Homo sapiens: one gene and its partners. The protein of the gene in region 4 interacts with the protein of the main gene of each other region in a biochemical or structural test. Each region holds a gene or a part of one and is shown on either strand. Other genes may lie near its edges.

Region 1 (3,648 bases), on a different chromosome or scaffold from region 4:
TTTTAAAGTCTAAACTGTTAAACAACTCTTTAAAGGATAATTATCCAATAAAAAAAAACCTAGTGCTGATTCACAGCTTATTATCCAATTCAAAAATAAATTAGAAAAATATATGCTTACATTTTTCACTTTTGCTAAAAAGAAAAAAAAAAGGTGTTTATTTTTAACTCTTGGAAGAGGTTTTGTGGTTCCCAATGTGTCTGTCCCACCCTGATCCTTTTCAATATATATTTCTTTAAACCTTGTGCTACTTAGTAAAAATTGATTACAATTGAGGGAAGTTTGATAGATCCTTTAAAAAAAAGGCAGATTTCCATTTTTTGTATTTTAACTACTTTACTAAATTAATACTCCTCCTTTTACAGAATTAGAAAAGTTAACATTTATCTTTAGGTGGTTTCCTGAAAAGTTGAATATTTAAGAAATTGTTTTTAACAGAAGCAAAATGGCTTTTCTTTGGACAGTTTTCACCATCTCTTGTAAAAGTTAATTCTCACCATTCCTGTGGTACCTGCGAGTGTTATGACCAGGATTCCTTAAACCTGAACTCAGACCACTTGCATTAGAACCATCTGGAGCACTTGTTTTAAAATGCAGATTCATAGGCAGCATCTCAGATCTACAGAACAAGAATCTCTGCTAAGTGGACCTGGAATCTTCCATCTGCATCTTAACATGCTCTCTAGGTGTTTCTTGTGTTTGAGAACCATGACTTATGACTTTCCTCAGAACATGAGACTGTAAAACAAAAACAAAAAACTATGTGATGCCTCTATTTTCCCCAATACAGTCACACATCAGCTCAAAATTTGCAATATTGTAGTTCATATATTACCGTTATGTCTTTGGAAATCGGGTTCAGAACACTTTTTATGACAAAAATTGGGTGGAGGGGATAACTTTCATATCTGGCTCAACATCTCAGGAAAATCTGTGATTATTTGTGTGTTCTAATGAGTAACATCTACTTAGTTAGCCTTAGGGATGGAAAAACAGGGCCACTTACCAAACTCAGGTGATTCCAGGATGGTTTGGAAACTTCTCCTGAATGCATCCTTAACCTTTATTAAAACCATTGTCCTAAGAACAATGCCAACAAAGCTTACAACATTTAGTTTAAACCCAAGAAGGGCACTAAACTCAGATTGACTAAATAAAAAGTACAAAGGGCACATATACGTGACAGAATTGTACACAATCACTCCATTGGATCTTTTACTTTAAAGTAGTGATGAAAAGTACATGTTGATACTGTCTTAGAAGAAATTAATATATTAGTGAAGCCACATGGGGTTTCAGTTGCGAAACAGGTCTGTTTTTATGTTCAGTTTGTACAATCCACAATTCATTCACCAGATATTTTGTTCTTAATTGTGAACCAGGTTAGCAAATGACCTATCAAAAATTATTCTATAATCACTACTAGTTAGGATATTGATTTAAAATTGTTCTACTTGAAGTGGTTTCTAAGATTTTTATATTAAAAATAGGTGTGATTTCCTAATATGATCTAAAACCCTAAATGGTTATTTTTCCTCAGAATGATTTGTAAATAGCTACTGGAAATATTATACAGTAATAGGAGTGGGTATTATGCAACATCATGGAGAAGTGAAGGCATAGGCTTATTCTGACATAAAATTCCACTGGCCAGTTGAATATATTCTATTCCATGTCCATACTATGACAATCTTATTGTCAACACTATATAAATAAGCTTTTAAACAAGTCATTTTTCTTGATCGTTGTGGAAGGTTTGGAGCCTTAGAGGTATGTCAGAAAAAATATGTTGGTATTCTCCCTTGGGTAGGGGGAAATGACCTTTTTACAAGAGAGTGAAATTTAGGTCAGGGAAAAGACCAAGGGCCAGCATTGCTACTTTTGTGTGTGTGTGTGTGGGTTTTGTTTTGTTTTTTTGGTTGGCTGGTTGTTTTCGTTGTTGTTAACAAAGGAATGAGAATATGTAATACTTAAATAAACATGACCACGAAGAATGCTGTTCTGATTTACTAGAGAATGTTCCCAATTTGAATTTAGGGTGATTTTAAAGAACAGTGAGAAAGGGCATACATCCACAGATTCACTTTGTTTATGCATATGTAGATACAAGGATGCACATATACACATTTTCAAGGACTATTTTAGATATCTAGACAATTTCTTCTAATAAAGTCATTTGTGAAAGGGTACTACAGCTTATTGACATCAGTAAGGTAGCATTCATTACCTGTTTATTCTCTGCTGCATCTTACAGAAGAGTAAACTGGTGAGAGTATATATTTTATATATATATATATATATATATATATAATATGTATATATATATATATTGACTTGTTACATGAAGATGTTAAAATCGGTTTTTAAAGGTGATGTAAATAGTGATTTCCTTAATGAAAAATACATATTTTGTATTGTTCTAATGCAACAGAAAAGCCTTTTAATCTCTTTGGTTCCTGTATATTCCATGTATAAGTGTAAATATAATCAGACAGGTTTAAAAGTTGTGCATGTATGTATACAGTTGCAAGTCTGGACAAATGTATAGAATAAACCTTTTATTTAAGTTGTGATTACCTGCTGCATGAAAAGTGCATGGGGGACCCTGTGCATCTGTGCATTTGGCAAAATGTCTTAACAAATCAGATCAGATGTTCATCCTAACATGACAGTATTCCATTTCTGGACATGACGTCTGTGGTTTAAGCTTTGTGAAAGAATGTGCTTTGATTCGAAGGGTCTTAAAGAATTTTTTTAATCGTCAACCACTTTTAAACATAAAGAATTCACACAACTACTTTCATGAATTTTTTAATCCCATTGCAAACATTATTCCAAGAGTATCCCAGTATTAGCAATACTGGAATATAGGCACATTACCATTCATAGTAAGAATTCTGGTGTTTACACAACCAAATTTGATGCGATCTGCTCAGTAATATAATTTGCCATTTTTATTAGAAATTTAATTTCTTCATGTGATGTCATGAAACTGTACATACTGCAGTGTGAATTTTTTTGTTTTGTTTTTTAATCTTTTAGTGTTTACTTCCTGCAGTGAATTTGAATAAATGAGAAAAAATGCATTGTCTCTGGTTTGAAATGACTGTTATTTTGTGGGCTTTCTCTGGTTTTTAGGTTTTCCATAAACGTAAAACACATTGCTATGAATATAACAGTGATCTTCAAGGATGTTTTGCCCTTCTTAGAAAAATAAAGGGGACAAAAAAGAAGGTGGCTGGCAAGTTAGTGCACTAGAAACAGGGTAATTAAGGCATAACTCAAAGTGACAATCAGCCTATGGCCTTTCTCCCATGATTCAGTGTGTAACTAGTTGATCACTGTAAATTTTTAAACTAGAAAATAGTTTGTGCAGTATTCAAAATTAATGTTGACTATATGTATATACATACACACTTCATTTTAGGATAAGACTTTATCAGAAGGCTTTTATCCAGTTTTTAATGGGTGTGGTTTATTTTAAATAAAAGAAAAAGGAGTTTAATAATTTTCCAAAAATGAATGTGTATGTATATACACGTGTTTACATGTTTAAATATATGCTGTATGTGTATAGGTAATGAGTAATTGATAAGCAACATACATACTCAATAAGTATTAGAGACCAGTGGATTCCAAGAAAAAAAA
Region 2 (3,559 bases), on a different chromosome or scaffold from region 4:
TAGGATATCAGGAAGATTATTTATAGAGCTTCTCTGAGAGAGTAAGAACAGCATGGTGGAGACTGGGTTTTCATTTCTATGGGGATAACTTACTACAAGGGCTCCCTATCCCTGCAGAAAACTTGGGTTGATTCTGTAAAGGGAATTCTCCTTCCCTCCAATTCTCATAATGTTCATTAAATGAAAATTCCTAGAAGTAAGGATCTGAGTCCTTCTGGGCCAGGGATCCAGAGTACAGACGATGTGCACATCTGCCCAGGCCCAGCCACTCCACGTCATGACTCTGGGAACTCCAACCACTGCTCCTCAACAGGCAGCACCGAAGACACAGCTCCAACCAACACAAACTACTACGGCATGGCATTGTGCCTTTTTGTCGAGGTCACCTTTCAAAGAATTGCTCTTTCTGACCTGGTGCTCCTCTTACCCTCACAGCTCGGCAGGAATCAGGAGGTAGGAATGCTATTACCAACAGGGATTTTCATGGATGGATAAAAAGGTCATGATGCAAATCCTCCAAAAAACTGGGCTCAAAACCCAAGCATCTTGTCCTCTAGGCCAGCATGAGAGGTCTGAAGTGTCACTGCCTCTAGCTAAAAGAGGGAAGGTCAGACAACCCTGTCCTCCTAAGGCCAATAATGGGAACTCTCACCAATGCATAAAGAGACACATTAAAAACGTATCTCAAAAGGCAGCCTGGATTGCAGTCTTTTGCAATCAAGAACCTGGGAGTCTAATGTTCTAGGGATGTCCTTTTAGTGGACCATAGGGGGAATTTAATTCCCCTACTTCTAGAACCCTCCATCTATCCCCAAAATATAAAGCCCTCTGGACACCAAATACTGACATAAACGTAATATTTGTGTAACAGGAAAGAAAGCAAATGCCTCAGCCAGTGAAAGTTAGCCAAAGCTTTAGAATTTCCCAATTATTAAAATACCTGATTTGTAGTACAGGATAGCTCTGATGTCTGGGAGGCAAACTGAGGCAAACTAAGGCCTGGAGCTTACCAGCTGATGAAAGGAAGAGCTCTCCTAGCTACCTAGAGAGGCATCCCTGAGAAAGCAGCCCTGCGGGGCTCAGATTCACACAGTGCTGGTCATAGTGCCATGGCACCTCAGTCCTGCCAGGACGGCACACTTTCCACCAACAGCTGCCCTCAGAGATTCATGCAGAGATAAAGGGAGTTTGAGGCAAGGCCTCTAATCTCCTAATGCTTGGTGCCTGCCTGCTGACAGTGGCCCTCGCTTCTCCTGGAGGCCAGGGTATCAAGAAGGCCTTGGTCCTAGTCTAACCAGAAGCCAAATGGATATGTACCTTGAAGCTATAACCTTGATCTACCAAGAATCTCTGCCGCTTGGTTGAGTAAGCCATTTCCTGTGTGTCCTGGGATACCAGTGAGTAGAAAAAGGCATTGTACTCTTCTGCAACCATCCCTGCAGGAAAAAATGAGAAACGGCAATAAAGAAGACAACATTAGCCATTAGAATGCCAAGAGCTAAGGGTCCCAGGCTCAAAAGCAAGCACTGGAGTGGAAAAGCCCTGCACTCGGGGTTACCACCTGAACTTGGCATGGGATTGCATCAAAATTTGGAAGTCTTTTGTGCTTCCAAGGACACCATCAAGTGAAAAAACAATCCTCAGAATAAAAAAATGTGGAAAGCATATATCTGATAAGGGATTTGTATCTAGGTTATACAAAGAACTGTTGAAACTCAACAACAAGACAAATTAATTATAAATGAGAGAAGAATATGAACAGATTACTTCTCCAAAAACAATATAAAAATAGCCAGTAAGCACATGAAATGATGCTCCACACCATTAATCACCAGGGAAATGCAACTCAAAAGCACAATGAGATTATCACCTCACGCCCCTCTCCGAGGATGGCTACAATCAAAAAAGCAGATAACTGCCACTGTTGTCAAGGATGTGGAAAAACTAGAACCCGCATGCATTGCTGTTGAGAATGTAAATGATGCGGCTGCTTTGGAAAACAGTCTGGCAGTTCATCAAAATGTTAAACACACTGTTATAACCACATGACCTGGCAATTCCACTTCCAGGCATAAATCCAAGAGAAATGAAACTATATCCACACAAAAATTTGTACATGAATTTCATAGCAGAATTCTTCTAAGAGCCAAAAAGTGGAAACAGCCCAAATGTCCATCAACAGATGTGTGGATAAATAAAATGTGGTATGTCCATGGAATCGAATATTATTTAGCAATAAAAAAGAATGAAGTACTGACAGATGCTACAATATAGATAATCTTTTTGAAAACATTATGCTGCCGGGTGTGGTGACCCAGTCCTGTAATCCCAGCCCTTTGGGAGGCTGAGGTGGGCGTGGATCACTCAAGGTCAGGAGTTTGAGACCAGCCTGGCCAACATGGTGAAACTCCATCTCTACTAAAAATAGAAAAATTAGCCAGGCGTGGTGGCTCATGCCTGTAATTCCAGCTACGCGGGAGGCTGAGGCAGGAGAATCCCTTGAACCTGCGAGGCAGTGGTTGCAGTGAGCCAAGATCGCCCCACTGTACTCCAGCCTGGGCGATAGAGCGAGATTCCATCTCCAAAAAACAAACAAACAAAACATTATGCTAAGTGAAAAGAAACCAGTCACAGAAGGCCCCAAGTGGTCTGACTGCATTTACATGAAATGTCCAGAAAAGGCCTACAGACATCAAAGTAGATTAGGGGCTGCCTAGAGCTGGGGGTTGGGAACAAGAGGAAATTAGGAGTGGCTGTGCATGGATGAGGGTTTCTTTTGGGAGCTGATGAGAATATTCTAAACATGAATTGTGTTGATAGTTGCACAACTTTGTGAATATTGTATTTCCTAGGTTTTCTTCGAGGATCCTTATAGTTTGAGGTCTTACATTTACATCTTTAATCCATTATGAGTTGATTTTTGTATGTGGTGATAGGCAGGGGTCTGGTTTCATCCTTCTGCATACAGTTAGCCAGTTTCCCCAGCACCATTTATTGAATAGGGAGTACTTTCCCCACTGCATATTTTTGCCAATTTTGTTGAACATCAGTTGGCTGCAGGTACATGGCATTATTTCTGAGCTCTCTATTCTGCTCCATTGGTCTATGTGCCTGTTCTGTACCAGTACCATGCTGTTTTGGTTACTGTAAGCCCTGTAGCATAGTTTGAAGTTGGATACTGTGAGGCCTTTGGCTTTGTTCCTTTTGCTTAGGATTGCTTTGGCTATTCAGGTGCTTTTGTGGTTCCAGATGAATTTTATAAGTTTTTTTTCTAATTCTGTGAAAAATGATGTTGGCAATTTGATAGAATAGTGTTGAATCTGTAGATTGTTTTGGGCAGTTTGGCAATTTTAATGATATTGCTTCTTCCAATCCTCAAGCACAGAATGTTTTTCCATTTGTTTCTGTCACCTATGATTTATTTCAGGAGTGTTCTGTAGTTATTCCTAGGTTTTGTCTTTTGTTTTTACAGCTATTATAAATTGGATTGTGTTCTTGATTTGGCTCTCAGCTTGAATGTTACTGGTGTATAGAAATGCTACTGATTTTTGTACATTGA
Region 3 (3,882 bases), on a different chromosome or scaffold from region 4:
CTTGAACCCTGGAGGCAGAGGTTGCAGTGAGCCGAGATCACGCCACTGCATGATGTGTGCATTGGTGTTAAGTCAGCTATTAAGAGGTGTGGGCTGGGTGTGTGTGGGGGTCAGAGGAGGTGATGTTTGCCCTGAGATGAGGTCAGAGCCCACATTCCCATGGGGGTGGACTCCCCTTTGTAGGCCTTGACACGAGCATGGGAGCGGAGCTAGGGGCACTGACATCAAAGGTGGTGGCGCCTATCCAGAGGACTCCGGGTTTCATTCCAAGTGCGGGGAGGCTGCAGCATGTCCCTCTTTAATATAGAGGTGAGGGAGGCTCTCAGCACCCTGCCTGTTGCAGGGAAGCCTGAGGACAGGACCTCCAGGGAACTCTGCACCAGAGCGGAATCCTCAGACCGGCAACTGGGTGGTCTTGATTCATCCAGAACGTAATTCTCCTAGAGGTCTGGGAAGGGGTGCTCTTGTACCTTGGTTTTGTGTTTTGTTTTTGTTTGTTTTTTGAGACAGAGTCTCACTCTGTCGCCCAGGCTAGAATGCAGTGGTGCGATCTCGGCTCACTGCAACCTCTGCCACCCAGGTTCAGGTGATTCTCCTGCCTCAGCCTCCCGAGTAGCTGGGATTGCAGGTGCCTGTCACCACGCCTGGCTCATTTTTGTATTTTTAGTAGAGACGGGGTATCACTATCTTGGCCAGGCTGGTCTTGAACTCCGGACTTCGTGATCCACCCACCTCAGCCTCCCAAAGTTCTGGGGTTACAGGCGTGAGCCACTGCGCCCAGCCGCACCTTGTTTTTTTTTTGCTGCCTGTAGCTGTTTCTCATTAGCCTGATGGAGGTGGCTGTTGGGGTGGTGGGGTGCTTATTATAAAGCCTTCTGCTGTCACAGCCCTGGGGTCTCACTTCCTGGGCTCTCTGCATAGGGAGCCGCCCTCCAGGGCAAGGGCCACAGTGTGCAGTAAGCCCCCCATGGCCACAGGGCAGGGCGTTTCAAGCCAAGAGTCTGCACTGTTTGCTGGCCACTAAGGGCATTGAATGGATCACAAAACTGGCTTTTTTTTCCCCCAGTCAAATAGAAATGGGGTTTTGCCATGTTGTCCAGGCTGGTCTCAAACTCCTGGGCTCAAGCAATCCTCCCACGTTGGCCTCCCAAAGTGCTGGGATTACAGGCACGAGCCACCATATCTTTAAAAATGTAATAGAATGGAAAATGGCAAAGCGCGCTGCTTTTCATAGAAGAGACTATCGCATTGGGGTTCTTCTGTTGCCCCTGCCTGTGCTGCACGTCCTGCTTCACAGTGTAAAGCGCAACTCTTGCTGTGCCTTATTGTAACAGGTATAGGGTGGATGCTGCCATCATGAAGAGAGAGGAGAGCTCTTTGCTTATAAAATTCCGTAGAGTGGAGAACAGGATGTGCCGGCTTAGGAGAGGGAAGAGGTACAGGCCCGCTCTGCCCGAGCTGCAGATGGGACACACATTTCCCGACTCAGAGGGGAGTCGTGTCTTTCTCCAGGGTCACCGAGCAGCAAGCGCATCCACTGTGTGTTCTTATTTTCTGAGCCTGTGGACTGGGTTTACCAACAGTTGCCTGTGGCAGAGCCGGCCACCAGCCCGCTCATAGGAAAAAGGAAGCCTGTGCCTCCAGGGAGGGCCCACGATGGGAATGCAGTCTGAGAAGGGTATGTGCTCCCATGCTGGACCGGCTGGTCCCACACCCAGGACCAAAAACACCTCCTGGCAGGAGATGGGGAGATGTACTTCATGAACACACGTTGGGGAAGGACACTCCTGGAAGGCAGAGGCTCAAGGCGGGCTGTGTCCAGGCCAGGAGATTCACTCCCACCTCAATTTCCTCCTCAGCACGGCTGGCCTGGCACTGGTGCCTGCTTCAGAGTTTAGTGTGTGTAAAGTGTGGCTGGCCCAGCAAGCAGGGGATGATGGCGGTTGTCAAGGCCAGGGGAGGTGCAGGGACAGGATTCTGGCTCCCGTGTGTAACGTCTGCATCTCAGGAGGCTCTCATGTTAGAAGCTGGGTCAGGGGCTTCGTGATGCACACAAACACCAAACAAGCAGGAGGCCTTCCGGGATCCTGCTCACGAGCAGCTTCCTGGAGGCAAGCCTGGCCCGTCTGCCCCTTGGTGACATCAGGACCCCAGCAACAGAACCAGGGAAGCCACCATGTTGTCGCTGCCATTTTCCAGCGTGGTAAACAGAAGCAAGACAAGGCGCACTCAGGACACCCAAACAGACGGCGGGGCCAGCCAGTGGCATGGGCGGGCTGCCCTGCCCTCTGGAATTTTCTGGGAAAGAACATAAGGAAAGAAGCGGTGCTGATGAGGCAGCTGGAGTTATCAGGACCCAAGCTCAGCTCCTCCTTCCCATCAGGCCCCGTTGGCCACTTTTAGGCTTCGTCCGCCTGGTGGCTCCCTGCTTGGGGCCGTTCCCTGGCTAGGCCCTTCCTCTGGGCCAAAGCAGAGAGGAGAGCGCGTTTGCCATGCGTTCTCATTTTCCCAGCCTGCGGGCTGGGTTCTGTCAGAGCAAGGTCAGCTCTCAGAGCTTCTGTCCCCACCCACCCTGTCCTGCTGAGCCAGGCTCAGGTATGGGTAAGAGCTGGGAGCGCTGTGCACGAGGCCTGGCAGCATCTCATCACTGCCGCTGTACCGAGTGCACAAGGGCGCTTCCTGTGGTGTTCAGGGGGTTAGATCAGTCCCCAGTGAGGACAGAGCAGAGATCCAGATGCATCCCAGGCCGGCTGCAGTGGCTTCTGCCTCTAATCCCAGCACTTCGGGAGGCCAAGGCAGGCAGATCACGAGGTCAAGAGATCGAGACCATCCTGACCAACATGGTGAAACCCTGTCTCTACTAAAAATACAAAAATTAGCCGGGTGTGGTGGCTGGCATCTGTAATCCCAGCTACTCGGGAGGCTGAGGCAGGAGAATTGCTTGAGCCCAGGAGGCAGAGGTTGCAGTGAGCCGAGATCATTCCATTGCGCTCCAGTCTGGCGACAGAACAAGACTCTGTCTCAAAAAAAACAAAAAACAAAAAAATGTATCACAGGCCTGTTTGTGTGGTTGTCTCTGGGAAATGTTCCAGAAGCTACAAGAAAGCACATGTGCAGGCCAGGCATGGTGGCTCACACCTGTAATCCCAGCACTTTGGGATGCTGAGGCGGGCTGATCACCTGAGGTCGGGAGTTTGAGACCAGTCTGACCAACATGGAGAAACCCTGTCTCTACTAAAAATACAAAATTAGCCTGGCATGGTGGTGCACGACTGTAAAAAATCCCAGTGACTCCAAAGGCTGAGGCAGGAGAATCTCCTGAACCTGGGAGGTGGAGGTTGCAGTGAGCCGAGATCGCACCATTGCACTCCAGCCTGGGCAGCAAGAGCGAAACTCCGTCTCAAAAAAAAAAAAAGCGCATGTGCAAGAAATAGCTCCTGAGCTGAGTTGGAATTTCTCATCCTTAAACAATGTGGGAACCTGCTGAGGTGGGGTGGGGGCTCCCGGGTGGGCGGACTCGGGGGTGATAGCCGCCGGTTCTGCCTTGCAGCAGCAGTGGACGTCAGCTCAGCGAGGTCTTCATCCAGCTGCCCTCGCGAAAGGAGCTGCCCGAGTACTACGAGCTCATCCGCAAGCCCGTGGACTTCAAGAAGATAAAGGTAACCCTGACGTTGTACCTGCGCCCCGCATGTGCCCGGAGGGGAGTCTGACCCAGGGGCACCCCCATCTGAGAGCTGTGGTGTGTGGGCAGAATGACCAGAAACCACCTAGGCGGTGCCTTGGGCTACCTGGTTAGGGACCTGGTCGTGGGCTTTTGGGGTTCCTTGTAAGGGTTGGGGGTGTCCTGAGGGATGTCAGTGGGCAGTCGGTGTTGGGTGTTCC
Region 4 (3,882 bases):
CTTCGTTGGAGAGGTATATATTTTTAGCTGATGGAAGCTACTTTTACTTGAGTCTTTGTTTTTTGACTTGCATTTATCAAAGATCCGTAGAAACAGCAAAATTTGTAGAGTTTACATATTGGCATGGAAATATTTATGGGTTTCCTGAATTTCAGGACTGTATTTTTGTTTCATCTTGTTTTACTTTTTTGTTTTGTTATTTGGTATTTGAAATGATAAAATATGTTCAATATCTGTATTAAAAAGGTACCTTTAGCTCTTACCAGTAGAAACTATAAATGAATTCAGTAGTAGGAATTTTTTTCTGGCAGCACATATAATACTGCCACTATTTGGCATTCAAATATAAATTTTGAACCTTATTTCTATTTAGGGCACTATACAGAATCACATTATATTGAATAATAGCATTTAAGTCTTCTCTTAGAACAGTCACAATGTGGGTGAGAGTCATAGTACCCTATGGTGAGTTAGCCTGCTGTTTTGCAACAGAGAGATGGTTTACATGTATCCTATCCCTGGTATTAGATCTCTCCAACTGTATCTCAATCCCTAGTTATATTACAGAACGGTAATCACCAAAAACTGCTCAGAGGTCCAGAATAATGAGAATTTGTTTAAAACACCTAAATTTTGGCTAGTCAAGTACTTAGTAGAAAGTGTTTCTTATTAGGAATATTTCTCAGGTCACTATAAACTCAAGACTAATAGAGATAATACCTGGGACTTTTAATTCTACATTCCCTTGTAAGGGTGTTAATTATCAGTAAATGCAGAATAACTACACAGATACTGCCTTTCTCCAAAATTGGTCACCAGTGTGGAGAAGACTTCTGTTGTGATGGGAATTTTATTTATTCAGTAAATATTTATTGAGTACCTGCCATGTGCCAGGCACTGTCTTAAGTAAAAAGTTATTGATGATGTAACAGACATGATTTTTGCCCCCTTGGAGTTTGCATTGTACTGCTATATGTAGAATGTTTAAAAAGTAGGTATGGTTTTGAGTAGAGACAGAAGAATTCTGTTTTCTTCCTGCTTCTGAATGTGTCCACCATTTCTGAGCCCACGGGAAAGGCATAGCTTCTGTGAGGGAGTAGATGTGGTGAAGATGTCTATCAGTGACTCTTAATATGTGGTTCAGAGGTTAGGGTGGTTTATAAGGAAGCTTGGAAAGCAGGCAGCAGAGGTTAGATTTGATAGCTAAAGAATGAGAATCCATCAGTTCTTGAGTACTAGAGACATGCTTTATGTTGCATTTTAGAAAGATTTAGTAAGATGGTGGTAGGTAAAAATCTGTTAAAAAGAGCTAACTGAAATCAGAAACCAGCTGTAGCAGTGCTGCAGACAGAAAGTAGAGTGAAGATAAGGATGGAGAAAAAAGGGCAGATGGAAATGTTTTATAGGAAGTGTATAAGCAAGGGAAAACTAAAGATTATCTTAAAATTTCTAGCATGAGAAATTGATAAAACACAGAAATTGGAGCAAGGAAAATAGTTAAGGAGAAAATTCCATTTAGGAGTGTAGTGTATGTTTAGTTTACAATATGTGATGTCTTTGGAGGATAGTTACCAAATATTTTTACAAGTAAGTTCAAAGAAAAGCAAGCCTCTAAAGGCCATTTAAAAGCTAAAGGTTTTGCGAGGCCGCGGTGGGCGGATCACCTGAGGTTGGGAGTTTGAGACCAGCCTGAACAACATGGAGAAACCCCGTCTCTACCAAAAATACAAAATTAGCTGGGCATGGTGGCTACATGCCTGTAATGTATTACAGGCATGGGATTACATGCCTGTAATCCCAGCTACTCTGGAGGCTGAGGCAGGGGAATCACTTGAACCTGGGAGGCAGAGGTTGGGGTGAGCCGAGATCGCACCATTGCACTCCGGCCTGGGCTGTTAACAAGAGCGAAACTCCGTCTCAAAAAAAAAAAAAAAAGAGCTAAAGGTGCTGTTAAGCTGCCTGTGACAGTCCTTTGCACCTAGTAGACTCTCAGGAAAACCCATTGGCAGATATTGGAGAGAACACATTATGTAGCATGTATTGTTTGAGCAACTTGGATGCCAGCAAAAGTAGCTGAAACGTTTTGTACTTAACGTATTTAGGAGCTGGGGTTGTTTTGGGTAATGTTAACCAGACTAGCCAAGGTACCAGCCCACTTATTAATATACTAATTATATCCTACCCTATTGTGCAAATAGTTATTACCCCTTCTTCCATTGATTGCTTATGTAAAGAAATATATTTAACAAGGTGAAAGGAGGGCTGTATCATAAAAAGAAGTATAGTTTAAAGCCACTGAGGGGAAGATCTTAGATTTCTCATTGAAGAAATTGATTGCTGACTTAACCAAGAAATTTGGTAGAAAAGGGGAAATAAGCAGTTTTACTAATAGAAAGAGGACATTTAATAAGATAAATAGAAATATGTATAACTTATTCTTCTCTAGTGACAGAAATTGAGGCAGCTTATAGTAAAACATACAGAAAGTTTGCAGTTTAAAATTTAAAATATAAACAGATATATAAAGTTATATAAGGGATAAGGAATTATGTTTACACTTCAAGATATTTACTGTTGCTGAACATTTATTTGAAGACAGCTTTTTTGTGTGGAGGTTGAACGGATAGGAAATGTAATGAACGTGGTAATAACCTTTTTAAAAATTCTCAAGAATAGGAACTTAGGCAACATAAAAATTTATCAATGTATTTCACAGATAAAGATTGGGAAGATATAAAAAAGATGCCTGAACATTCAACATTAATGAAAGATTTCAGAAGAAATACGTAAGTTGGAAAAAAAGAGACTCCTTGTTGATTTTTGCTTTACCAGAATACTCAGTGTAAGACTGAATATTCAACATAATAAAATACTCAATATAAGATTACTCTAATAAATAATTTTACTTATTTACTCTAATAAATATTTTTCATGATGACAGTCTTTATTTCTTAAGATGCTTAAATGATTATATACAAAAGTGACTAATATTAGCAGCTGATTTGGATATAAAACAAATTCATGTCTTTCCATATTGACTACTTTTTGGAAGCTAGACATTAGTGAGAAGTATCACAGCTGAATAAATAAGAATCTAAATAAATAAACTTTGGTAATAGCCACTTGCTCACCAATCTAGGTTACAGTAATTTTAAGCAGGTTTTAACAGAGAAGAATGGATATTTCACCTGTTTACAATGCAAAGCCAGGGATTGGGAGAGTTTAGTTTGTATACCTATGACAAAAGTATTTTACACTTATTGGTAAGGCTGAATTAAACTTTTGACCCAGATGTTATTTAAAATAATTGTTAAAATATAATTCATGTGAAAAAAAAAGCTGTTTAGTGTCTGTTATTCATGAAATTGTCTTACATTTAATCATCGGTATCCTTTCAAAAGTGACCATTGTGGATATTGAATGAAATAGAAAACTGATTTAATTCTACTCATTTTATGCTCATAGTGTTTTCAATATATATTTTATATCGGTTATGATCAAAATAATTCTCATCAGAAGGACTTTAGCCAATGTACAATTAACCTCAAGTCTAATATAGCTATTTCATAGTATTTCTCTTTCAGGTATACCAACTGCAGCCTTATCAAGTATATGGAAAAACATAAAGTTAAACCAGATAGTAAAGCATTCCACTTGGTAAGCATTGGTTAACAGTATTAATGAAATGCATTTTTTCCTTAATTGACTAGCCCAACTGAGGCTTTTTTGGATCAATTTATGTGGTTACTTAGCTAGCACTCAGAGTGCTTTCATGGTAAATGCAGAGATCTTGTTAGTGCATACCAATAAAGACAATAAACTATTTGCTCTTCCAGACTCATATCATGGTTTGACAGACTAATGTTTGGTCACATTAGATTT

The links. The genes of interacting proteins can lie anywhere in the genome.
Region 1: the proteins of CDK8 (region 4) and NRIP1 form a complex in vitro, tested with the Homo sapiens proteins (one study listed by BioGRID).
Region 2: of the proteins of CDK8 (region 4) and ERCC3, one has a biochemical effect on the other in vitro, tested with the Homo sapiens proteins (one study listed by BioGRID).
Region 3: the proteins of CDK8 (region 4) and SMARCA4 form a complex in vitro, tested with the Homo sapiens proteins (one study listed by BioGRID).

The regions. Positions count from the first base shown.
Region 1 is NC_000021.9:14,960,678-14,964,325, reverse strand, and holds the end of NRIP1 (nuclear receptor-interacting protein 1), read left to right. Parts: 3' UTR 1-3,091; downstream 3,092-3,648. UniProt on the Homo sapiens protein: Modulates transcriptional activation by steroid receptors such as NR3C1, NR3C2 and ESR1. Also modulates transcriptional repression by nuclear hormone receptors.
Region 2 is NC_000002.12:127,259,911-127,263,469, forward strand, and holds part of ERCC3 (general transcription and DNA repair factor IIH helicase/translocase subunit XPB), read right to left. Parts: intron 1,437-3,559; coding exon 1,318-1,436; intron 1-1,317. UniProt on the Homo sapiens protein: ATP-dependent 3'-5' DNA helicase/translocase. Binds dsDNA rather than ssDNA, unzipping it in a translocase rather than classical helicase activity. Component of the general transcription and DNA repair factor IIH (TFIIH) core complex.
Region 3 is NC_000019.10:11,054,705-11,058,586, forward strand, and holds part of SMARCA4 (SWI/SNF-related matrix-associated actin-dependent regulator of chromatin subfamily A member 4), read left to right. Parts: intron 1-3,550; coding exon 3,551-3,659; intron 3,660-3,882. UniProt on the Homo sapiens protein: ATPase involved in transcriptional activation and repression of select genes by chromatin remodeling (alteration of DNA-nucleosome topology).
Region 4 is NC_000013.11:26,393,569-26,397,450, forward strand, and holds part of CDK8 (cyclin-dependent kinase 8), read left to right. Parts: intron 1-2,716; coding exon 2,717-2,786; intron 2,787-3,584; coding exon 3,585-3,657; intron 3,658-3,882.